Linked DNA regions of Homo sapiens. The protein of the gene in region 4 purifies or fractionates together with the protein of the main gene of each other region. This does not show direct contact. Each region holds a gene or a part of one and is shown on either strand. Other genes may lie near its edges. The genes, in order: POLR2M, RPRD2, GPN1 and RPRD1B.

Region 1 (7,033 bases), on a different chromosome or scaffold from region 4:
CAAGGTCTTTTAAAGCACATGGGGGAGTGTTAAATTTTAGGATGCTTAGCCAGTATTTCATAATAAACACAGAGTTGGAGAGAATTTATTATGACTTCTTTTTTTCAGAACCATTTTTTAGTGTACAGCTTTGATTAGTGTACTATCAAAGTGTACTCTCTTTGATTAGTCTGTGAACTAAGGGTAAAGCAATTGCAGGAGCTGATGGGCTTTCCAGCAGAAATTATTTGCATGCTCACTGTATGTAAGCAAGCAGCAGGTGTTGTGGGGACACAATTAAGTCAAGATTCTTAAAACTCCTTTGCCTTTTTTGATGTTAAATCTCAAGTTTAAAAACATGGCTGTAATGTATACATGTGTAATGTAATACAATACCATGTTCTTCAAGGAGTTTAAGAGCTACATGAGGACCCAAGGTTTACACACTTGGAAAAGAGTTAAGCTACATAATAATAACAGTTTCAGGGGGAAGGAAGCTGAGAAGAGGTTTGAAAAACTGTGAAAATAGATTCAGGCAGGATAGGCAAAAACTCTGCTTATCAGTTCCTTGCCATAAATTTGTTTCTGAAATTTCAGGAAAAGTAAAATCTTTTTGAAAATAATTGCTATTTACTTGCAGCAAATGTAACATTCAACTCAGGTAACTGGTACCTTCTTCCTATATTGTATTTACAAGTATGTAACATCAAAGTTAAATCACTACTACCTTTCTTTGAAAAACAGAAAACCTCTAGTGAAAAGTATCTAAAACATGCTTCTTTTTTGTTAGACTTTAATTCTACCCCAGCATTCATTTTAACCTCAAAACATTTTATTTCTGCTGTATAGAAAATCAGGATTATACTACATTAACGTGATCAAGTACTCTCTTGTGTACAGTGGGGTATCTTTCTTCACTTCCAGGATGACATTTTAGAAAACTAGAACCATCATCTAGTCAATAAATAAAACAAAGAATACATTAATCCCAGTTCTGTATTATGGTCATTTAGCTGGGAGTGGGAGAGAGGTAAGGGAATAGTGAAGAGGGCTACCAAGAATTCAGGAAGTTTAAGAGACAGGGAGCCTCCTGTATAAGTTAGAGGAGAACAGGAAAGGCAGGGCTTTGAGGAGTCCTTAGGCCATAGACAGGTAGGGATTGAGAGGGTTCCGTGTGAGAGGTGGCTTGGAGGTTGGAAGGTGGGGTCAGGTAGTGTCCTTTGGGTCCTTTCTGCTCTTCCTTCTGCATACTCTTCTGGCTTCATGTATCACCTGGATGCTGGAGGCTGACCCCTGTGCACCTCTATCCCAGATCTTCCCAGAACTTTAGGTTTGCATAGCCAATTAACCATGAAACTTGATCACTTGGGTGTTCCCAGGTACCTCAGCTTAATGATGTACAAAGTGGAACTGCAGTTTCTTTCCAAGGTGATTTCCATATTCCCTAATAGTGCCACCACCTTCTCGGTTTTCTTCCCCTAAGGTATCTTCGATTTTTCTCATCTCCATATCTGCTAGCCATGAAGACCTACTTATTTCTTTGATCTTCATCTCTATAATTGTTCTTCATCTTCTGTCGAAGTGAAGACTCTCATCTCTCTCGGGCTGTAATTGTGGCCCCTTCTACCTCTAGTCTTAACTACCAGTCTATCTCCACTGCTGCCAGAGTGAAATTTGTAAGATGGAAATCCGAACTTGTTACGGAGAACTCTTCATTGCAGTCTGGGCCTAGGCTACTTCCCAGCCCTCTTTCTCGCTGTCTTTTCTGTGTAGCCAGAAAAGCTGAGTCTGTCTACCTTCTGTACTTTCTCTCACTCCCCTTGCTGGGATGCACTTCTCTCCTTATTTACATGGGTAAGCAGTTATTATTCCAAGACTGTTCAAAGCTTTTTTGAAACTTTTCTTAGCCTCCCTGTCTCCCACTAGAACTGGCCATTTCCTTATGTTCCAATGTATCTTGTTGAGATATCTATCACAGTATCTCTGGTATTGTATTGCACTGAAACTTTACATGTGTATTTCTTTCTACTGGGCAATAAGCCCTTTTGCAAATGTTCTTTGAATAAATGAAAAAAAAAAAAAAAACTCCAGATGAAATACAAGGTTTGAATAAGGAAGGAAAAGGCAAAGAGCCTGTATGCACACAAACACACCCCTATTTGTTAGAGCAATGAATACTGGTAAATTACTTACTGTTACCTTTGGAGGAGAATTAATTGCTAAGGTAAAGGCCATTTGTGTGAATGTTTTAAATGTGTCTACAAATAAAATAATCTGATTGTATAACACAAGTTTTCCTTTCATCAGGTTACCTTTTCGACAAAATGATTCATCTAGTCATTGCCAGAAGAGTGGGTCTCCTATTTCCTCAGAAGAGCGGCGGCGCAGGGATAAGCAGCATCTTGATGACATCACAGCAGCTCGGCTTCTACCACTTCACCATATGCCCACGCAGCTGCTCTCCATAGAAGAATCCTTGGCACTTCAGAAACAGCAGAAACAGAATTATGAGGTATTTAGAGTATTTTTTTTCTTGTCTGTTTGTTGGGTGCTGCTTACATAAGCTAGAATTTACTCCAGGTTCAAGGAGGAAGGAATGGAATAGAGGGGATTAGGTGCTTCCATGAGCTCAGATCTATGCCACTAGTTTTCAGAGAGTCACAAAGTTGCTAGAACTGCAGGAAGTAGCTAGAGATGATCACAGCTACCTTCAACATTAAAGTGGTGATTTGCCTGGAGATGTGGGGAGACTTGTAGAATTTCATGTCTTAAAGCTCATTTACCTGCCTGTTCCTGTTAGGATAGTAGTAGCATCGCATCTCTCCCTTTCACCTTGTAAAACTCATGTGACAGCTTCTCAGTGGCGGACTCAAACCCAGACCCCTTGTTAGAGAATGAGGAGAATGTAGTTCCCAGGCTTCCATCTTCTGCAGTACAGGGGAGGGCATAGAAGGAGTGGGAGGATAATGTTGTGTAGCCAGCAGACAGTGAGACACTGCTTTAGAGCATAATCTGCAGGCCCATGTGAAGAGAGAAATATCTCCTGCTTTTGGCAGCTTAATCAATTTTGCATAGCACTTTGTTTCCATGTGTTTTGCATTGAACTTCAAACATGTATGTTGAGAGTTTGTATACAGAATAATGGGATGGGAGAAAATAAGTGTGAAGGACCATAGGGGAACAGAAAAGTTTAGAAGTATTTAGTAATAATTTTAGCCTCCAGGAGAACAGTATCCTGTCTCACTTCCTAGGTATTGATTAGCTAGATTTTAGTCAGGTACTAGTGCACCAACTAGTATAACACCAGACTGTTCAGGAGTTCGAGACCAGCGTGGGCAACATAGCTAGACTCCATCTTTACCAAAAAATTAGCCGGGCATTGGGGCATGCAACTGTGGTTCCAGCTACCTGTGGGGCTGAGGTAGGAGGATTGCTTGAGCTCAGGAGGTCGAGGCTGCAGTGAGCCGCAGTCACACCACTGCACTCTGTATAGCCTGGGTGACAGAGTGAGACCCTGTCTCAAAAAAAAAAACAACAAAACAGGCTGTTAATCTGCTTTGGCTTTTCATAAAAGCCTTGGCATGGATTGGCATTATCAAGGTGCTCTTTTTGAAAAAAACCATTTTTCTTTCAGTGCATTAAAATGACTGTCTAGTTATGGCTGTAGCATTGAGGAAGTGTTTACTGTCTCTGAGCTCTTAAATGCCTGTCCTAAGATATTTTTAGGTTGAATTAAACCCTTCATCTTTAAATTGTTTTTTTTTAGCAGAGAAGTTGTAGTGGTAATAGCTCCCACTTTTACTGACCCATATTCATGGCTTGAAGAGGAGGACATCAAGAAGTTCAAGAAAGCATGAGAAAAGGGAAGAACTGAATTAGGAATGACATTGCCACCTACCATCAGTTGGTGGTAAAGTCCTTGGGAGTTTTTAAGTACATTGCCAGTGTCTGAAATTTACTTGGACTTTTTATTGGATACTAGTTGCTGTAGGACTTTATTTGGAGAGGAATAGTCAGCTTTTTAGTATTAATTTCTTGATTTTCATTTTGCCATTGAAATGTAATTCCCAAGTCTGGAAGTCATGATTGTAATTAGGGAAGAAGGTCCTGTCAGTTGTAGAAATCTAGACAGCATTAGTCCTTCTTTTTTTTTTTTTTTTTTTTTTTTTTTTTTTTTTTTTTTGAGACGGAGTCTTGTTCTGTCACCCAGGCTGGAGTTCAGTGGCGCAGTCTCAGCTCACTGCAAGCTCCGCCTCCCGGGTTCACGCCATTCTTGTTCATTCTTGTGAACCCGGGAACACGCCGGGTTCACAGGCACCCGCCACCACGCCCGGCTAATTTTTTGTATATTTAGTAGAGACGGGGATTCATCGTGTTAGCCAGGATGGTCTCGATCTCCTGACCTCGTGATCCGCCTGCCTCAGCTTCCCAAAGTGCTGGGATTACAGGCGTGAGCCACTGCACCGGGCCCCAGCATTAGTCATTTTTGACATTTGATAGGTCAAATTGTTATGTGAGTGTGTATACATGTGCATGTGCCCCCATATTTAACGCATCTGTATTTATAAGTATTGTAGTGCTAAGCTCATTACTCAGTTTCTTATATAGAGGAGTGTATTTCAGTGCAATGTTGTATATTAATGGAGGTCAGTAACTTCAACTGTAGCAGGCTGGTGGCTGTCAGAAGCATTACCCAGTTGTGTCTGATAGGGCACAGCCATCAGGCTTGTATTGCCCAAGGGAGCACTCAGTGAGGTGTCAGTGTCCCTCTTATTGCTGATTCTAGGTAACTTCCCATTGAAAAATTGTAAGGAAGAGATGTGAACGTGTAACTTTGTGCTTTGCTCTTTGTTTTAAAGGAGATGCAAGCAAAGCTCGCAGCGCAAAAATTAGCTGAAAGACTGAATATTAAAATGCGGAGTTATAATCCAGAAGGGGAGTCTTCAGGGAGATACCGAGAAGTAAGGGATGAAGATGACGATTGGTCCTCTGATGAATTCTGAAGATAATCTCCTAAATCACTGACGTTGAGATGTCATCATCTTACATCAGACTTTCTAACTAGTATCAAGATCAGTGTCAGATATTGTTGAGGGAAGTAATTTTATAAAGTTACACAAAGGTAGTTATAAAAAAAGCCCAGTTTGTCTTTCAGAAGGTGACTTTCATGTGCTTGAAAAGTTTAATATTTGAATATTGTGTTTAACCACATGGTATTAAAATTTTGCAATATATTGTGTATTGGTCTGATATTTTAGTATATAGTAGAACATACTTTTTTTTTCTTTAAGCCAAATGAAAAGAGGTAACTTTGCTTTTTTCCTTTTTCTTACCTATCAAATAGCATTTATTACATGTCTTTCAGTGAAATACTTAGTTGTTCCAGGCACCTAAAATCAATTAGGAAGACATAGTTCCCTTCTTTTTTGGGTAATGAAGGGAGCAGTCTAAAGAATTGTATGCATGTTTGCATGGGGTTATTGAGACATTGGATGTGAAATACCTAGGAAGACATGTATGGAGAATGCTTAACAAATGCTCTTCTCCTTTTTCTGTCTTCCCTTAGGAAGAACGTTATCTCTCTTCTGATTAGGAAGGACTTCCCTTTTGAGTAGATGCTGGAAAGTGGAGGTTTTTTTTGTTGGTTTGTTTGTTTGGTTTTGTGTTTTTTTTTGAGATGGGGTCTTGCTCTGTCGCCCAGGCTGGAGTGCAGTGGCAGGATCTCGGCTCACTGCAATCTAGGTGGAGGTCTTTTTAAATAACCTCATGTTACTTCAGGCAAATCTGGTACAGGAGAAGCCCAAGCTAACTGAGCTGGGTGAAGGCTTGTGCATCACCTGGCTTGAGTTCCTTGCTGTCACAGATGATAGGTTCATGTACACAACATTAATGTTTGATAAGGAAAGCATTTTTTTTTTGTTAAAATTGAATTGTCAGTACTTTACTTTTTTCCCCCCAAATAGGTATATATAGACTGCAGAAGCTTCAGTCCCATATATAAACGTTCATGTCATTTTAGAGGATTATATGGTTGTCTCCAGAGAAATTAACTTACATTATCAAAAAATTCTTTGTCTAATATATTGGAGTCTTTAAAAGTGTTGAAGAATAAAATATTAATTAGAACAACTTCAAATGCTAAGGTGATGTTTTACCGGGACTTAATTAAATACAACTTTTTCCTTTCGAAAAAGACTGTTCACATTTGCTTCCAGGTGTAATTATTGCTTTCATTCCTTACCCCCCTCAAGCAAATGTGAAAAGTATACTGACCTAAGATTCTCATTAGTTTTAGTTCTTAAAACGAATAGTAAATGATTTCACAGCGTAAAATTTGATGTTATTTCTGGAAGCTGGATGATATGGAAGAGTTCATGTGCCTGGACACACAGTTCCCTGTAATCCTGCCATCTAGGGAGATAAACTCTGTTAACATTTTGATGTTGTGTTTTTGCTTATTTTTCTATGCATAGTTATGCATTTATATTCTCAAAAATGAAATCATAATGTACATTGCTTTGTAGTCTGCTCTATATATTGTCAATATGTTCCCATATTAAATATTTTGCTTTTTAGACAGCTGTAGGATATTTTATTTCATGGGTATACCATAACTTTAAGATTTATTTCCTATTCAGCAATTTGATTATGTATTATAATGTAATCTGTAAATAGTGATATGATTAACATCTTAATCACATCCATAGAAAATGACTTATTTCCAGAAGATACCGCTCTAAAAATGAAATTGTTAGGTGAAAGTGTTTTTGAGAATTTTTATATATATTACTCACTGCAGAGATCATGTTCATTTACATTCCCATTAGCAATATATCCAATGCTCAGAATTGAAAATTACTACTTAAAATCTTTGCAAATTGAATAATTACAGAAAAGGGCTACATTTAAAATTTGTATTTGTTTTTCTTACTTAGTGAAGGTTGTGTTTTTTTTCATATTCATTGGCCATGCTATATTCATTCTTTTGAGAATTGCTCATTCATATTTTTTCTGTTGCTTGCTTGGAGAATTTGCTCTTTTTTTGGCATATAAG
Region 2 (4,953 bases), on a different chromosome or scaffold from region 4:
CAGATTGCCTTCAGTGACATTAAGTGCAGAAGTCAAAGGGGACATCTGGAAAAGATCAACAGGAGGGGAAAAGTCAACCACACAACAAAGGAAACCATACTTTATTAAACTGGAAAACAAAATAATGGGGACAAAGGGATTAAAAAAAAAAGGAACGTCTGGAAGAGAGTAAAGTGCAAGTGGTTACGAAGTGGGTGGTCTGTGGTATCTCTGTGTGTGCCTGAGAAATGTGTGGGCGCACACACCACTACTCCCACCCCCATACCCTTGGACCAAAAGCCAATACAACCATATCTTCTGAGATATATCCAGGCTTTTCCTTCTGCATTCTCTAGTTGGTTTCACCTTCGGCCCTGGACAGTCAGGCTGGGTCTTTGCTAGAGAAAACTTAGGTTTTCCAACCACAGGCCTGCTCCACAAAGCAGCGGTTTCAGCTCCTGAGAAGTTCCCTCCTATTTGCACTCACTAGGAAGCCAGGGGCCCCTGGTCCAAGCCCGTCTCAAAGAAAAATGTCAAACCTTTCAAACTAGTTATTTTATTAAACGATATTAACACACATTTCAAAAGGATTTCATTGTTGTTGCTTCTAAAGCATGTACTTGTTTTGTTTTCCACACCGAACACGTGAGAATATCAATCCAACATATCTATTTTAGATCTTAACAGGCGCCCCCGCCCACTTAAAAAAAATAGTGGGGGAACTGGGGAAAGCAGTAATTTACAGCGGCTTCAAAACAGTAACAGCTGAAGCTCAATTCTGCAGGAACCGGTAACTTCAGGATTGAGAGTGAATATCCTGCCATTAGGAAGTTTATCGTATTCACATTATCTCGATAGGTTTGCTGGACCCATATATATCACAAACATTTTATTCCTGGTATTGGAAAGTATAAAAGTCCTATTCTCTGCTTATTTTCCCCTCCCTGGAATCAAACCAAATTCTATTTACTCTCAACTTTTGAGAGGGTAGAGGGGAGCAGGGAGAGAGCTCTCATCTAAGCTGACTGAAGAGTAAACTCTTTCAAAATACTTAAGGACCCTATTTCTGAACTGTATCACTGAACTTTAAGTGGTACTAGTGTATTCACAACCCCTACCAATTCTCTGTCTGTGATTTTACAGTGAGTACCAAGGACCTTACAACTTCTCACATTCTGCTTCCATATGAATCATGTCCTTGCTAAGACACACTATGTTATGCTTTCTTTAAAAAATATCTTGTTTATTTGTTTAAACTCAGGTTGAAATACAAAAGTCAGAGCATGGTCACGGAGTTTTAAATCACAGACACAGAAAGAATAAAACCCCTTTCTTTCACGTTATGAATACCAGAACTGTCTTTTCTGTTTCACTATTTATCACATATATACACACTGTCATCTTCATTTACTGATGTAAATGTAAATTTTAAGATTTCCTTAAAATTAATAGCTGACAGTCTCATACAAATCCTCACTTCCATCCTAAAACAAACATATTGAGGATTTTGTGGCTTAAAAAACAAAAAAGTACCCCACAAAAACCCAACTCCTTAAAAGCCCACCTTCGAAACTGTCCAACAAAGTCTTCCTTTCATGTATTAACCATCATACTTTTGAGGACAATTATCCCGCCCCAACGTTCAGGAAGCCACTTTCCTGACATCCCCACATTTTCTGATAAAAATTAAATGGTCAGAGAGCCTTATCAAGTAAACACTACTTTTAGCTTAAACAAGAGCAGCAAAGAGAATTCACATTCTTTTATTCTAGAATGAAAAACATCCCATTTAATTTCTGCAAAAAAAAAACCTATTTCAATTTTGAAAGTCAAATATCATTTCCCCACCTCCCACCCCATTTTCTCTTATGCTTTTCCCTAACAAATGTCTTAGGACTCAATATAACTATACTTTCTTTTCTTTGCTACACTACATACCCCATCCCACACGTAAGGTCATGGTATCATGCATTTTTGTGGGGAGAGCTACAGGGCAGAGAGGGTCGAGGAAAGAAAGAACAGTTGGCTTAAGACCAGACAGGCATTAAGAAGATGAATGACCTGCAGCATCCTAACCCCAGAACACATGGCGAGCCCAAATAAATAACAGAATAAATTACGCAAAAACTCCCAAATCATGATGTGCACCTGGTTTATGCTGCTCTTTCTCTGAAAAGTTCATTCTGAGAGAATCATTTTCTGTCACTACATTGCCCACCCTCCCCCATCTTTAATATTCTACTGGAGGAAAAAGCAACCCCATACTTCCTATAGTTAGTTCTATACTAACTTGGAAGAAAATATGAAACTTGCCAGAATTCTCTGGAAAACTAAACACATACTGTTTTACTCATCTAGCTGGAGATTATCAGTTGAGTATGCCTTGGGGTAAGACACTAAATTAAAAAAAAATTGTAGTAAAGCAACATTTACTTTTCAGTGTCCCTAGATATAAAGATATAAACACTCAAAGTACAGTGATTGTCTATTTCCCAAGTACTAGATGTAGAAATACAAACAAGTCTTTCAGTCCAGGGAGAAGGAAAGCACTTATCTTGCATGTAAAACAACTAAGGGCAGAAATGGTCTTTATTTCCTATTGGGAGCGAGAGGTGGGGGTAAGACTTGAGCCTTGAAATGGGATAGACACATGTGTATAATATAAAGGAAAATGCTACTGAATCTCCTCCTTTAAAATATCAAGAATAGGGGTGAATAACACGACTGAGGCAAGGGGAAAAGGAAGATAAAGACAAATATTTCTTTCTTTAATAGTTAACCTTTGTTGAAAACCACCAATAAATATCACTTACATTAGGGAGGCACCATGGTAAAATTAATGTCTACTTCTTATATTTAAAAATGCAGGGATAATATTTCTGTTGCACCTTTGTATCAATAGTCAACTGTAGTGACTGTCTTTCTGGCCACAGCAGAAGAAAAACTGAGGGAGATAAAGTCAAAAAGGAAAAGCAAGAGGCATGAGCTTGGTGCAAGACATGTGAAACTACCTTGAAAACATTTCCTATTCTCTTGTTTACAAAAAAACAGGCAGGTCACATCACACCATTAATGCTTCCTTTCCTTATTTTACATACTGTAGTCACTCCTTATTTTAACCTTGAGGCTGATTAAAAAAAGATTTTAGGAGAAGGGTAAAGAACTAAACTTCAACATGCCTTTAAAAACAAAACAAATAAACCTGACAGGTTCAAGGTCTCTCACATTTCCTCCCTTGCAACATCTCTTGGCTGTTAGCAGGACACAGATACACAGGGAAGGGAGCCGAGCTGGCTACAGCAGTTACTAAGCTGCCGAGAGAGGGGACGGGAATCCTTCCATTGACTACTCGATAAGCCAAGCCCAAAATAACATCCCAACATTGCACATGTGGTTATCTGTACTGATGGAAGTTTTATTTCAAATGTAATAATACTCTTCAATAGATGGGGTAAAATAAAGATTGTTTTCCTCCCCACTCCCCAACCCCCCAGCCAAATGAAATGGCTTTGGTTGTGTTTCTTTACTTTTTTTTTTTTTTTTTTTTTTTAATACAAACAACTTGGGGAAGGTAGATAAGTGCAATGGGAGGGAGGATTGAATTGAATAGTAAAACGTAAGCGTATGTGATTTCTTACTTTGGAAGAGAGGCCCTTTGTTATAATAAAAAAAAAATCGAGAAAGAGAAAACAAATAAAAACAACAACAATAAACCAAACTCCTACTTCCAATGTTCTCTAGACTGTTCAAAATGCCTTTCCCTTGGTTTCCATCAGTACCTGGGAGGGAAGAATGGGCGTTTTGGTGCAAAGAACGGAGGGCCCCTAGCAAAAGGTGGCCTGGGTCTCTTTAAACTGTGAAATGGGTCTCTGCTGAGAAAAGGTTCCCTAGGCCGAAAGTCTGGCCGGGGACTCCGTAAGATTATACCACTCCGGCTGATGGTGTCTCTGTGTGAGGGACCCAAGGGGGGGCCACTGCTGCTGTTGCTGCCTCCCCCACCTCCTCCTCCATGGGGTGGGCCCAGGTGTTCCAGAGAATGGGAGGGTAGGGTGAGGCTCTCTCGTACACGGCTAAGGCCAGGGCCGTTGAGGTCCCGTTGGGTGGGGCCCCCGTGGTCCCTGGGTCCTGGGAGTACCCCAAAATGCTCAGCCAGGGTCCCTTGAAGGAGGGAACTATGGTCCTTGGGAAATACTGCCACAGCCCCTGCCACTCCGTGCTCTGCCAGTGGTGGGGCTGGGAAGGGTACAACTCCAGAGTGGTCAACAGGGGGTGGAGGAGGGGGTGGAGTAGAAAAGGGGACACCACTCCCACCACTGCTGCTATGTTCCCCAGGAGGGGGAGGAGGAGGTGGGGTAGGGAAAGGAATTCCACTGTGCTCTCCAGGAGGAGGGGGTGGGGCAGCATGGGCCAGGGCTGCCTCCTTTGTGAAGGGGTTCGAAAGATCCACAGAGGGTAGATGAGTGGGTGCATCTCGAGAGAAGATACCACCATGATCCTTAGGAGGGACAGGTGGGGCAGATGATGGCCCCACTGGCTCTCTCTGGAAGGGTGTCCCATGTTCCAAGGGGGATGGGGGAAGATGATGCTCAAATGTTGAGTTGAAACTGTTGGAACGAAAGCTGCCGACACTCTCCTGAAATTGAGGTGCCCGTTCCTTGTATGGTGCTGTTTTAAAGCCAGTGAGGCCTCCGCTGCCCCCACCCCCAAGGGATGCCAACTCAGAGGCACTTGAAGGGCCATTGTCAAAAGAGCTACCTGATGTGCTCAGATCAAACCAACCCACCCTTGAAGCCTCACGCCCATGTCCTCTATTTCCCTTCCCAGGAACTCGGATGGACTCTACGGTCTGGATCGGCTCCCCTGACATCCTCCTATTGGATGCACTGTGATAACCCAAGGTTTCTATAGGGGCCCCCTTTTCTTCTGTGCTATCAGGCAAGTCTAAGCAGGAGGAGGAGACGCGGGTTTCTATGC
Region 3 (7,033 bases), on a different chromosome or scaffold from region 4:
GACTCTGCCTCAAAAATAAATACATACATACATAAATTTCAAGCTGGGTACAGTGGTTCACACCTGTAATCCCAGTACTTTGGGTGGCTGAGGTGGGCAGATCACTTGAGCCCAGGAGTTCGAGACCAGCCTGGGCAACACGGCAAAACCTCATCTCCACTAAAAATACAAAATTTAGCCCGGCATGGTGGCAGGCACCTCTAGTTCCAGCTACTTGGGAGGCTGAGGCAGGAGAATAGCTTGAACCCAGGAGGCAGAGGCTGCAGTGAGCCAAGATCACACCACTGCACTCCAGTTGGGGTGACAGAGCAAGACCCTGTCTCAAAACAAATACATAAAGATGATTTGTTTTAAAAAAAAAAAATTAAAAAGAAACAGGCAAAAACTCTTGGTCAAAAAGGTTGGCTAAAATAACAAAAACATTTTAAAAAGAAATAAGAAAAACCTATATATGGAAAACTGGAAACACTCCTGAAAGACACAAGTAGACCTGACAAATACAAAGACACTCTGTGGTCTTGGGTAGCAAGACTGAACATCATAGAGATGTCACTTCTCCCTAAATTAATTATGAATATAATGTAATCCCAACTAAAATACCAAAAAGCTTTTTTAAGGAACTAGATAAAGTTGATACTCAGTTCATATGGAAGAACATGTAAGGACAGCCAAATAAAAATTAGGAGGAGAATCTGATCTAGCAGATATTGAAACATAATTACATAATTAAAACAACATGGTACAGGCATAAAAGTAAGGAGTCCTTGCTCACCAAAGCAAGTTAAAAGAAAAAAAAAATGGGCTGGGGATGGTGGCTTATGCCTATGATCCCAACACCTTGGGAGGCCAAGACAGGAGGACTGCCTGAGGCCAAGAGTTCAAGACCAGCCTGGGCAACATGGTGAGACCTCGTCTCTATTAAAAATTTCCTTAAAACTAGCCAGACGTGGTGGCACACACCTGTAGATCTAGCTACTCTGGAGGCTGAGACAGGGGGAATGCTTGAGCCCAGTAGTTCGAGGCTGCAGGGAGCTATGATTGCGCCACTGCACTCCAGCCTGGGTGACAGAGTGAGAAACTATCTCAAAAAAAATAAATAAATAAACAGTCCAGTGAAATAATATAGAAGTATACTCAAGTATGCATGGAACTTTACTACATTTAGAGATGAGGTCTGAGGCTGGTCTGGAACATTATACACGTAGCATCTCAAATCGCTGTTACAAGCCAGGTGCAGTGGCATACACCTATCCAAACTAGTTGGCAGGCTGAGATGGAAAAATCGCTTGAGCCCAGGAGGTCCAGACCAGCCTCAGACCTCATCTGTAAAAAAAAAAAAAAAAAAAACACTACCAAAAAAAAAACTCACTAAGGCAAAGGCAGACTTTTAAATAAATCATACAGATACAACTATTTATGAAAAAAATAACACCGACTTATATACCTTATACTATAGCCAGGAATAAACTCTAAATTAATCGGGGATCTCAATTTAGAAAATAAAACCAGACAAATCTATAAAAAAAAATAGGTGAATTCCTCTTTAACATAGGTATATATAGAGGCTTCCTAACTGTGACTTAAAATCCCAGATGCAATAAAAGATAGATCAATTTGACTACATCAAAACAAAATAAGAACTTTTGCATGGCAAAATAACACCGTGAACAAAGTCAAAGGATAACTGATAGGGAGAAAATATTAAACATTTGCAACATATAATCACAGAAAAATTGATATTCCTATTATATCAATGGATATTAAAACTAATGGGTGAACATTAGAAAACTAAAAGGATATTTATAGTCTCAAAGCATCACCCCACAAAATTCTTATTACAAACAGAAAAACAGCCATATTTAAAAATAGTAATTTTTGTTGTTGTTGTTTTTAAGATGGAGGGAGTCTCACTCTGTCACCCAGGCTGGAGTGCAGTGGCGCGATCTTTGCTCACTGCAACTTCTGCCTCCCGGGTTCAAGAGACTCTCCAGCCTCAGCGAGTAGCTGGAATTACAGACATGCACGACCACGCCCAGCTAATTTTTTGTATTTTTAGGAGAGATGGGGTTTCACCATGTTGGCCAGGCTGGTCTCGAATTCCTGACCTCAAGTGATCCACCCGCCTCGGCCTCCCAAAATGCTGGGATTACAGGCGTGAGCCACTGCGCCCGGCCTAAAAATAGTAATTCTTTATGAAAAACGTAGCATACACCACTTTATAAAAATACTCAAAGTTAACATCACCAGTAATGGGACAAATCAACATCACGTGCCTCCCAATGTGATTCCTTGAAAAAACACAATTCAAAAATTAGTCACCTGAATCAAATCATGAGGAAACATGAGACAAACCTAAACTGAAGGATGCTCTATAAAATAACTATCCTACATGCTTAAAAAATGTCAGTCATGAAATACAAAGTCAGACTAAGGCACTGTTCCAGATTCTAAAGGAGTATAAGGCATGTGAGAATTAAATACAATGCACATCCAGATTTTCTCCTGCTATCATGGGGAAATGGCTACATCTGAATAAGATCTATATGTTAGCTAATATTATAGTATTATGTCAATGTTAATTTCCTGATTTCTGATAACTGCACTGAGGTTATATAAAATTATATCCTTGTTTTTAGGAAAAAGACACTGAATTATTCAAGGTAAAAGAGTATTATATCTGTAACTTACTCAAATGATTCAGGAAAAATATATATTTATATAACATATAAAGTCATATATAGATAAAGAATAAAGTAAACATGGTAGAATGTTAACATTTTGGGAATCTGATAGAATAATTATGGCAATTATTTGTATTATTCATGTAACTTCTGTAAATCTGAAATTAAGGTCAAACTGTAAAAAAAAAAAAATTTTTTTTAATTATAAAAAAAATTGAGGAGGGTTAAAAGTGTTAGAAACAAACAAAAAAAACCACCACAGCACACATCAAGTATATTGCCAAAGTAAAGCAAAAACTTCCTGAAAGAGGAACCCAAAGTGGTAGAGCTGTATATAATTTCAAATTTGCCTTTCCAAATCCTTTATTTTTTAATATATATGTATGCATATGTATGTGTGTGTGTGTGTGTGTGTGTGTGTGTGTGTGTGTATATATATATATATAAAACCACATTTCCTTTATCTTTTTCTCTTTCTCTCTCTCATATATAAACAGAATCCTGCTGATAGAAATAAGTGTAACCGGCCAGGCACAGTGGCTCATGCCTGTAATCCCAGCATTTTGGGAGGCCCAGGTGGGTGGATCATCTGAGGTCAGGAGTTCGAGACCAGCCTGACCAACATGGAAAAAACCCCATCTCTACTAAAAATACAAAATTAGCCGGGTGTGGTGGCACATGCCTGTAATCCCAGCTACTCAGGAAGGCTGAGGCAGGAGAACTGCTTGAACCTGGGAGGTGGAGGTTGTGGTGAGCCGAGACTCCAGCCTGGGCAACAAGAGTGAAACTCCGTCTCAAAAATAAATAAATAAATAAAAGAAAGAAGTGTAACCTTTTTTTAGTTCCTAACACCAAGAAACCCTCCAATACCTTTGGCAGTCCCTGCATCCAAGGCTACAGAACCCATATCTTTTCGAAGGCGTTCCAGTTGTTCTCTCTGCTGTTGGCTCTCTGCGTTGGCCTGTATATACAGAGAAAAATGTCATCATATTCAAAAAGGAGTCCCAAATTAGATGCCAGACTTCTCAGTGGAGATGAAGAATTATACAAATACTAGAGGCTACATAAAAACTGATGCAGATAAGGGACGTCTGGTATAGGGACAGAAACACTAAGTAGCGTGGGCCTGGGTTACTGCAGAAGTTTAGACTGGAGGGCTCTGCAGACTGATTTAGAGGGTTCAGAAACGGAACACAAAAAGGTTTCAAAAGAACCCTCAATTCTAAAGTGTTGAGTTCAGTCCAGGGTGGATCCCCTGCTCTGTTAATTGAACTGGAACATTTAAACTGGCTAGGCAAAATGCCTACATAGAAAGCATTACTCTTTATTCATCCCCAGCCTACAAAATGAAAAAACAAAAGATACAATAAACTTTATTATATGGGGGAAAAAAAACACAAAAACCTGAAGTAGACATAGCAGGAAGGCTCAGAGACAAAGGATCCAATGAGCCTAAGGAAGCAGGACACTCGATCATTTGGGATAAGAGAAGGCTGGGCATGGTGGCACCTGCCTGTAATCCTAGCACTACAGGAGGCCCAGCAGGGAGGACTGCAGGAGCTCAGGAATTTGAGACCAGCCTGGGCAACACGGTGAGACCTTGTCTATACAAAAAATTTACAAAATAAAATTAGCCAGGCATGTGGTACATACATGTTGTCCTAGCTACTCGGGTGGCTGAGATGGGAGGATCGCTTAAGCCCAAAAGGTCGAGGCTGCAGTGAGCCGCGATCGTGCCACTGCACTCTGGCATGGGTGACAGAGTGAGACCCTTTCTCAACAACAAGAAAAGGAGTTGTGAAGCACCACTACACTCTTATACAAAATTCTACAACTAGCTTTAAATTGACCTCTGAAAGGGAAGAAACATTAAGGAGACTTTCCGCACCCAGACAACATACATACAAATTTACAAATTTAAATTAACAAGTATTTAGAAGATACACTGAAATTTCATTAGCCACTTGTACCTCAATAAAGCTACAAAAAAAACTTTTTTAATTAAATAAAAGATACATTAATAACCAAAACAAAAGCACTTATGTCATCAAGATTGAGCTGGGTTTTTTTAATGGCCCTTTTAAAATATACAAACAGCCTCCCTTCTTACCAGTGATTTTTTCAGACGTTCATATTCAGGACGATACTCCCTGTAAAGAGAAACACTTTCTAAATTCCTTTGCTTAATCCTCTATCCTACTGACTCTCCACATCCCCTTATCTCTATTTTCCTAAGACTGACAATAATAAAACATCTGACTTCATTCAACATCAGATGTAACAAATCTTAGTCACTGACAGAGTCTACCCAATGGAATTAAAAGCCAAGGTGCCCGCTCCCACCTTGGAACCAGGAGACACAATCCTGACTGCTGGGCTGGAAAGATTAATATTGGTGAGAACATGACTGATGAACTCACCATTCATTTGAGATAAAAGGGTGAGATAAGTAAAAGATAAGCCTGTTGAGCTCAGGACGTGCAACATACAATTATGTGCTTTACTTGAACAACAACAGTGAAAGGATACAGAAAAGAGTCTATCCTAAGGTTTTGATAACACCCTTGTGTCTAATGAATCAAAATCAAAATAACATGTCTGAAAACCAAAATATGGTTGTTAGGATCTTGCAAAATATGAAGCCAAAGACACATGACACTAATAAGCCGGCTATCATGCCACAGGCCTAAGGAAAGTGCACAGGGCTCTGACTCCACTTTTCTTTACTTGAATTCCAGTATTAACAATGACAATAGTTATAACATTTATTATAAAATGTGCTTACTATATGTCAGCAATTGTGATAAGTGCTGTATACGTTTTCTCAATCTTCACAACAACCTTAGTGCCAAATCCAGCCCACTGCCTGTTTTCATAAATGTTTTTCTGTAACACTAGCCACGCCCATTAATTTACAAATTGTCTGAGGACGCTTTTGTCCTACAATGGCAGACGTGAGCAGTTGCAACAGAGACTATATGACCCACAAAGCCTGAGCTACCTACTGTTTAGCTCTTTACAGAAAAGTCTGATGATCCCTGCTCTTAATCACTCAATACAATGAAGATTTATACTTCTATTTAAAAAAAACAAAATTTAAAGGGAACTTGTCACCCCTAAGTGTGGTCTGATTCAATACACATATGCAAACCAAATATAATACATCCATCATGAAAATGTAATGCTTTTCCTGGAAAAACTGCTTTCATATCAGAATTGTAGGTTATTAAGAATGTCATCAATAGAATTTTCCTTTATCCTCACCTTTCATATTCTTCGGCAGCACTGGTAACTTGCACAAAGAGTTCATCTAATCCAGTACCCAGAACAGCAGAGACACCCACCACCTGCCAAAAAGCATCATAAATGCCACTAAAGAAACCATTGTATATTTTTTAATGAAGTACATTAACTTGTTTAAATGTCATAAAATCTTAGTAAGAGTGGTTTATATTTTGAGAAGTCTTTGGCAAAAAGCCAGGCTAAAAAAGAACAAAACAGCACACCCAGTCAAAAGTCACAGAAATAAGTCCATGGAAAATAAAAAATTGAAAAAGAAAGATATGGCCTGAGTGCAGTGGCACATGCCTATACTACCAGTACTTTGGGAGGCTGAGGCAGGAGGTGCACTTGAGGCCAAGCATTCAAGACTGGCCTGGGGAACATAGCGAGACCCCAGTCTCTACAAAATATAAAAAATTAGCTGGGTATGGTATACCGCACACGCCTATAGTCTTAGCTGCTTGGTAAGCTGAGGCAGGAGGATCCCTTGAGACCACGAGGTCAAGGCTGCAGTGAGCTGTGATCCTGTCACTACACTCTGGCCTGGGTAAAACAAAGCAAGATCCTCTCTCCAAAGGGAAAAAAGAAAAAAAAAAGATAATTAGGACTGAACAATTAACAGGACTTATTATCTATTCCCTAACAAACCAAACCAAATCACTTTCTGCTTTGTCTATGTCTTTCCTTGGGCAATTAACCCATTCTGCCTTTGCTTACATAAATCTTACCCTTCTTCAAAGCATACCTCTAATGCTACATCCTCCAAAATCTGTCATTTTGATCTGCCGCCTCACAATCATCAGGCCCAACTTCCAATCTTTCTTAAGGTACTTACTACAATATATCATATGTTTTAATTCTGTGTGTAGCCTTCTCTCCCAAATAGACTATAAACTCTGAAGCTGGGGTCCCTATCTTATTCTTCTTGTACACTCCACAATTTTTAATAAGCAATGCTTTAAAAGTTACTTTTCAGTAGGTAATAAGCTTCCTTTCTCAGCCAGGTTCAAAGCCAATCCTATGGGTTAACAGATTATCTGGAGAGGCTGTCAGTGTGAGCAGGAGAGAAA
Region 4 (7,033 bases):
TATAGGCGTTGAGTGGGAGCTGGTAGTAAGTGAAAAGAGAAATCAAAGACGATTTCTAGGTTTTTGATGTAAGGAATGACTGATGGTGCCCTTTACTGAAGTGAAGATTGGGGAAAAGATTTGGTGGAGGAAATCACGAGTTTTGTTTTGGCCAGGCCGAGTGTGAGGTGGCTAGTGAATATTCCAAGGAGTGATGCCAAATAGGCAGGTGGATAAAATAGTCTGAAGCTCAGTAGAGACTTGATTTCTGGAGACATAAATTTGAGAGTTACCCACATGATATTTACTTATTGTTGTGGGCCCCAAGACCACTCCCAGGTTTGGTGATTCCCTAGAATGACTCACAGGGCTCATCATGTAGTCATAGTCATGGCAGTGATTCATTACAGCTAAAGGATCCAAAGCAGCAGCAGCAGCAGAGGGTGATGTGCATGCAGTACCCGCAGCAGACTGGAGCGCTCTGGGTATAAGCTTCCGAGTCCTCTCTCAGTGTTATTCCACAAACACGCTTAATTCCTCTAGCACTGAGTTGTGATGTGTATGATGTGTAACCTACCAGGAAAGCTCATTAAAGACTCTGTGCCCAGAGTTTTTATTGGATTGGTCATGTAGACACCCTCTGCCAAAATTCTAAGCTCCCAGAAATAAATCAGGTGTTCATTTTTTTTTTTTTTTTTTTGAGACGGAGTCTCACTCTGTCGCCCAGGCTGGAGTGCAGTGGCTTGGTCTTGGCTCACTGCAAGCTCCGCCTCTCGGGTTCATGCCATTCTCCTGCCTCAGCCTCCCAAGTAGCTGGGACTACAGGCGCCCGCCATGATGCCCGGCTAATTTTTTGTATTTTTTAGTAGAGACGGAGTTTCACCATGTTAGCCAGGATGGTCTTGATCTCCTGACCTTGTGATCTGCCCGCCTTGGCCTCTCAAAGTGCTGGGATTACAGGCGTCAGCCACCGCGCCAGGCTCAGGTGTTCATTAAGAACCGTATTGCTTGCACAAACAATTTAGGCCCAGTAAACCACCCTTACCAGTTAGGAAATGGTAGGGACACTCGGAAATCCCAAGTTCCCAGACCACTTCCCTAAGGGTAGCAGTCTGGCCTTCTGTGTTAACTCCTTTCTGAACCAGCTTTACATGAGGTACTGTTGGAAGTGTAGGGAATACTTAGAATTCCTGCCCTTAGTAGGCCTACCATAGGCCTGCTGTGCATGAGATAAGACAGAGTTGTACAAATTACTGTGGTTGTACTGAAAAAGTGCCATAGAACTGTAGAGGAAGAAAAGGCCCCCAAGGCTGGCTTTGCAGGGACTCAGGTGTCCAGCTGACACGTCAAGCAGCCAATTCTGTTTGTGTGTATCATATACATTTTTCACTCTTAAAGGTCAGTTTTGCTATCTGTATTGAAAAATAAAGTGATTGAATTTGTTATTAATCAGAATTAAAATATGAAGTGTTCAACGTAATATTAAGTTGTGTATGTAATTATTTGCCATCTTCCACTTTATTCATAGATTGTTGGCAAAGATTGTTCAGTCTTTTTTTCCACTTAAAGATTTCTCAGTTTAGATTGGAGTTAGTACAACCTGAAAATATTTCTCTTTCTGTTATAAAACGGCTTTATTACTTTGGTTGTATCTAATTCCAGATGCCAAAGTGACTTCCATTTCGCTGGAGCTACTTCCTTCAAAACCTAATCAGTAGAAAGATTTCTTGAATATTTTATGTATAACTTTGAAACTTATCTAGCAAAACTTTGATTTACCACAATGTTCAAGGAAATATCTGTCCTGGTTAGTTATATTCACTAATTAAACTAGAACCCCCCTTTTGGCCTTTAGTAGTAAAAGCCTTTTGAAAATGTTTTGTGGTTATAACAGGTTTGAGCATCATTTTCCACTGTGCCTGAAACTGTACACAAAACCAGTCTTAGCCTGAATGGAGTCCCAAGTATCTCCAGGAATGGTGGGTGGTGGGTGTGTGTTGTGATACCCACCTACTTTTAAACTAAGTCCTTGATAAGAATTTATTCTCGAGACTGGTTTCTCTTTCTTTTAAGCGAACAGAGAATCTGCAGCAAACAGATTTTATGCTAAAAGTACCAGCTAGTTCATTAACTAAGTTCTGATTAGTTGCAATTTGGTTTTACTAATTATAATGACTTTATTTTTCTAAGCTATACATTTGCTCACATTAGGGACCTCCCATTGCCTGCAGGCCACGTGCTTTAATATGGCATTCAGGGCTCGCTGTAATTGAATTCCACCCTCCTTCCAGATTCTTCTGCAGTTTCCGCACATTCCCCCATATACTTCAGCTACTTGAATTACTCCTTTCCCTTTGCCTTGTTCAATTTTGGCTATTCCATTTGAAGGAGAAGAGATAGCATGAACAAAGGCACATGCACATGAGAGAACAAATTCTGAGTAGCAAATACATACGGGTGGGTGTTGCTGGAATGCAAAGTTCCAGGTAGGGTAGGGAAAGGAGACTAAAAACAGGTCTGAGGGATTGCTGAGTCGAGCCCTAGAGGTCAGGACCCAGGCCTTCTTATTCTTTGTAAACCTTCATTGGTCGAGCTGAGGAGTGCTTAGTTGATTTCTGCCATGACCTTGATACAGTAAGATGATTGTTGAAAGTTAAGTAACTGTATTACTTACCGAAACCCATATACATTTTTCTGGAAAAGATTACAATTTGACAGATATTCATTGTGCTTGTTCAAGGGCATATAGCAATGGGAGAAAATGACAAATCTGCACCCCTGTGGAAATTACATTCAAATGGAAAGCGTGTAAACAAAAAGTAAACTATTGAATATACAGCATACCAGAAAAGTTGTATGGAGAAAAATTGAGTAGGGGCAGGGAGTGTTATTTTCAACGTGGAGATTAGGGAATGACACACTGAAGGTGGTGTAACTAAACATACCCCTGAAGGAGGAGAGGAATTGAGCTGTGTGGCCACATGGGGAATGTGGTTCCAGGCAAAGCAAACTTTTGAAGTGCTAAGGCTCTGAGGCAGTGCTAGGGTAGCTGTTGTTGAGGCAGGAGGTTGGAGGACGGGGGTGGGGAAGAGTGGGTAGGAGATGAGGCCAGGGAAATAACAGCTGGGTTGGGAAAGGCCTTGGAGTCTTTATAAGGACTTTTATTCTGAGGGATACTGGGAAGAAATGTTGGCAATTTTGAACAAAGGAGTGACGTGGTCTGCCTTAGTACAGCAGCTAAAATTGTATTTTGAAAACTCGAGAACAGGTTGTAGGAGGACAAGGGTGGAAGCGAGGAGACCAGTAATGAGGCTACTGTAGTAATGCAGGCGAGAGATGATAGTGCCTTGGGCCAGATTGATAGCAGAGGAAAAGATGAGAAATAACTCATTTCCGGATATATTTTGAAGGTGGAGTAAAAGTGTTTTATCACAAATACCAAGTAATTGGGTCATATTTTTAAGCTTTATAAAATTAGCAGTAGAAATGTTTTTCCTTTTTTTTCCCGAACCCTCACTTCTGACTTTAAAAAGTTTAACAAAAAAAGAATTAATTTTTATGTACTCTGATTGAGTCCTTTAGTCAGTGAAATTTACCACTAATAATTCATAAGTGAGACATTCTGACTGGGCTAGGCTGAAACCTAAGTTCTCCTTGAGTTTATGAAAGCGTTGTCATGGTCGGGTGTGAATAGAGTTCCCATCTCAGTTGAATTGGCATGGTTTCTCCTTGAAGTTCCTATTAAAAGCCATTTAACTTAGATACTAAGATGTCGAGGTATCCCTTCTTGTTTAAAGTCATTCAGTATAAGATCGTTGCCATTTAAACCCCCTCACAAAACAGAAGATTTCATGGTAACAGTGCATGGTGACTGAATTCACTTTGCTTTCAGAAAGTCTAACCCAATCTTCTGCTTGCTGTCTGAGATTTTATTGTAGGCAATTGGTTCTCAGTGAGTGCTAGTTATAGTCCTTTATATCCTGTTTCAGGAGTTAACATGTCAGGGGAAAACATTTTCTAACTTCTAATTCATATCCTTTGATATAAATTATGAAGGACTGCATTATTAAGTGTGTTCTAAGATTATCAGATACCTTTGTGTGAACCTGGACTATGGACTTAGCCCAGAATTAAAATAATTATGCAGTGGTTAGAACTGGAATGATTCTTGACATATACATGTATGTGATTGTGTTTATACATGTAGAGGTGTTGGTGTGTTAGAATTGATGAGTTGCAGTGAATTTATTTCCTGTTTTAAACATCTGGTTTTTTAAAATCATTTTTCTATCTTTAAGAGTTCTGATCCACTTTTAATTTCCAGCAGAATGTCTGGCATTTTAATTAACGTCTTCTTAAAAAGCAAGCTATCACAACTGATAAGATGGAGTTTTGATAATTTTCTGTCTGTAAAAATTGGCCATTGACTTTTGGTCCTATTTGATTTCAATTATGGCATGATCCCTCCCACTGCACGAAGAATGTAGTTTGTGGTCAAGTTTTGGGTATCCAGGTATTACAATATGTACCTTATTTGGTTTTAAATGTGTAAATCATTTAGTCAGTTGTTGATTTCTTTTTTTTTTAAGTAGGTCTGTCCTAATTAAAAGCAAAAAATCTTAAGCTTATATATATCTTTTCATCTTTTCTGGGCAGAGAGGCAGATGAAGGCTGTAAAAAACCTTTAGAAAGATTGCTGAACATCTGGCAAGAACGAAGTGTGTATGGCGGCGAGTTCATACAGCAGCTGAAGCTGTCTATGGAGGACTCCAAGAGCCCTCCCCCCAAAGGTAGAAACATCACCACATGTTTACAGCTCTTGGTCTTTGCCTACTTTCGAATCAAATATGAAAAGCTGCAGTGGGGTTTGCTGTGAACCACCAGCGATTTTATGATTCTTCAGAGAGACAGATGATCATGAATGATGGTGAGAATTTATGTAGTGCTCACAGCGTGTAAGCCTGGTTCTAGTATTCATGCTATTCATCCTCTCACACCCTGACTTTTGCTCTCTGTTCTCCTTGGCTTGCTTCTGTCTTTCAGAGACTTTCCTTGCACAAGGAAAGGAACAACAAAGTTGTTCAGAGTTGTGGTGAACTAGGAAGTAGCCTGGACTAAGATTTTGTCCTTGCTCTGCCATTAACTACAATAGGACCTTGGATAAGTTTCTTAGCTTTTTAAGAACTTGATTTAATTAAATGTAGATGTGCTTTTGAAACATATCCTTAGGATTGTCAGCATGGTGTCTGTCTAAAGTTGATTGTTTGTTTGTTTTGGAGACAGAGTCTCACCCTGTCATCCAGGCTGGAGTGCAGTGGCGTGATCTCGGCTCACTGCAACCTCCGCCTCCTGGGTTCGAGCCATTCTCCTGCCCCAGCCTCCTGAGTAGCTGAGATTCAGGCACCTGCCACAACACCCGGCTAATTTTTGTATTTTTAGAAGAGACGGGGTTTCACCATGTTTGCCAGGCTGGTCTCAAACTCCTGACCTCAAGTGATCTGCCCGCCTCGGCCTCCCAAAGTGCTGGATTACAGGTGTGAGTCACTGCGCCCAGCTTAAAACTGATTTTGATCTTTACTGAACCCAGGATATCTTTAGGAAGTGCATCTGTGTGTGAATTTTGCAAAGCCCTTAATAAGAGCTTATATTATTTTTTCTTTTTTCTTTCTTTTTTTCTTTTTTTTTTTTTTTTTTTTTGAGACAGAGTCTTGCTTTGTTACCTGGGCTGGAGTGCGGTGGTATGATCTCAGCTCACTGCAACCTCCGCCTCCCGGGTTCAAGCAGTTCTTTGCCTCAGCCTCCCGAGTAGCTGGAATTACAGGCACCTGCCACCATGCCCAGCTAATTTTTGTATTTTTGGTAGAGACAGGGTTTCACCATCTTGGCCAGGCTGGTCTTGAACTCCTGACCTCGTGATCCACCCGCCTCAGCCTCCCAAAGTGCTGATATTATAGGCGTGAGCCACCTCACCTGGCCTATTTTTTTCTTTAAAGAGTAAGATCAAATGTTGTTTAGTTACTTGGCTTCTGGTTAGTTGTGGTTTAATTCTAGTTGGCATGACATGTTTCTTAGCTACAGATCTGATCTGCCTGCATACATGTTTCCTGGAGGATCGAGTCCAAGTACTGATAGTATTGAAGACCCTTTCTATCTGAACTAGCCTGTTTTTCCAGATTCTTCTCCTGCCACTTCCTCACTTACACTGTATTCTTTGGCCAAACTGAATTGCCGACAGTTTACCCTCTGGATGCTCTGTTGGCACTGCTTCCTTTCCATCTGCTGTTACCTCTACTTGATGTCCTTCTACCGCTTTCACTGTGTGATGAACTCATTCTCCAAGAATGCAACTCTCATTCTGACATCTTCCCTGGCTTGTCTGGGCCCATGTGGTCATTCCCTCCTTGTTCTCTGGTACTTTATACATGCATCTGCTATAGAACCTAGTCATGATTAGCATGTGTGACAGTATCCTTCACTGAGTAACCCTTTTGTGTACCCTTCATGATCCTTTCCAGGTCTGGAATTATTTGCATTTTGCAGTGGGTAACTTTCCTGTGAAACCAAAGGTTAGAGGCTTTCTGTGAATGACATAAGTGCTTTCAGACTGCAGGTCATTGTTGTTTTACTTGGTGTTGCTAGAAGATAATTTTAGGATCACTCAGGTGATTGGTAGCTTCTGAAAAGCAAGATGTTTCCTGCTTTGGATTCTGGTGTTTTTATTGTGTCCTTTGGAGGTCTTCAGTACAGCTTTGGGGAATTACTCAGCATTCTTTACTCTGCCTTAGAGTTCATTGGTAAACAGTGCTGGTTTTTAAGAACACCTTTGGGCAAGTAGGAGAGCCTTGAAAGAGGATGTTTGAAGCTAATGTTGAATTTCAATTTAATGTACATTTGCTGGACACATACTTTGAATAAACAGATATGCTAGATGCTATAGGAAAGAGGGAGAAAAGAGTGAGGAATAGGTTTGCACTCTGGGAATGTGTGGAATTTGTGGCAGTGATAGTATTGGGAATAGCTTCAGTGGGTTTCTGATTTTTTTTTGAAAGTCTAG

The links.
Region 1: the proteins of RPRD1B (region 4) and POLR2M purify together in Homo sapiens (affinity purification with mass spectrometry; 5 studies listed by BioGRID and IntAct, with this or other methods). This does not show direct contact.
Region 2: the proteins of RPRD1B (region 4) and RPRD2 purify together in Homo sapiens (affinity purification with mass spectrometry; 6 studies listed by BioGRID and IntAct, with this or other methods). This does not show direct contact.
Region 3: the proteins of RPRD1B (region 4) and GPN1 purify together in Homo sapiens (affinity purification with mass spectrometry; 4 studies listed by BioGRID and IntAct, with this or other methods). This does not show direct contact.

The regions. Positions count from the first base shown.
Region 1 is NC_000015.10:57,709,698-57,716,730, forward strand, and holds part of POLR2M (protein GRINL1A), read left to right. Parts: intron 1-2,286; coding exon 2,287-2,491; intron 2,492-4,838; coding exon 4,839-4,982; 3' UTR 4,983-7,033. Other genes in the region: GCOM1 (GRINL1A combined protein), read left to right, coding at 2,287-2,491, 4,839-4,982.
Region 2 is NC_000001.11:150,472,133-150,477,085, reverse strand, and holds the end of RPRD2 (regulation of nuclear pre-mRNA domain-containing protein 2), read right to left. Parts: coding exon 3,752-4,953; 3' UTR 520-3,751; downstream 1-519.
Region 3 is NC_000002.12:27,639,038-27,646,070, reverse strand, and holds part of GPN1 (GPN-loop GTPase 1), read right to left. Parts: intron 6,029-7,033; coding exon 5,946-6,028; intron 4,832-5,945; coding exon 4,792-4,831; intron 4,029-4,791; exon of another isoform or gene 3,902-4,028; intron 3,643-3,901; coding exon 3,552-3,642; intron 3,504-3,551; exon of another isoform or gene 3,179-3,503; intron 1-3,178. UniProt on the Homo sapiens protein: Small GTPase required for proper nuclear import of RNA polymerase II (RNAPII). May act at an RNAP assembly step prior to nuclear import.
Region 4 is NC_000020.11:38,043,713-38,050,745, forward strand, and holds part of RPRD1B (regulation of nuclear pre-mRNA domain-containing protein 1B), read left to right. Parts: intron 1-4,633; exon of another isoform or gene 4,634-4,635; coding exon 4,636-4,769; exon of another isoform or gene 4,770-4,890; coding exon of another isoform or gene 4,891-4,906; intron 4,907-7,033. UniProt on the Homo sapiens protein: Interacts with phosphorylated C-terminal heptapeptide repeat domain (CTD) of the largest RNA polymerase II subunit POLR2A, and participates in dephosphorylation of the CTD by RPAP2. Transcriptional regulator which enhances expression of CCND1.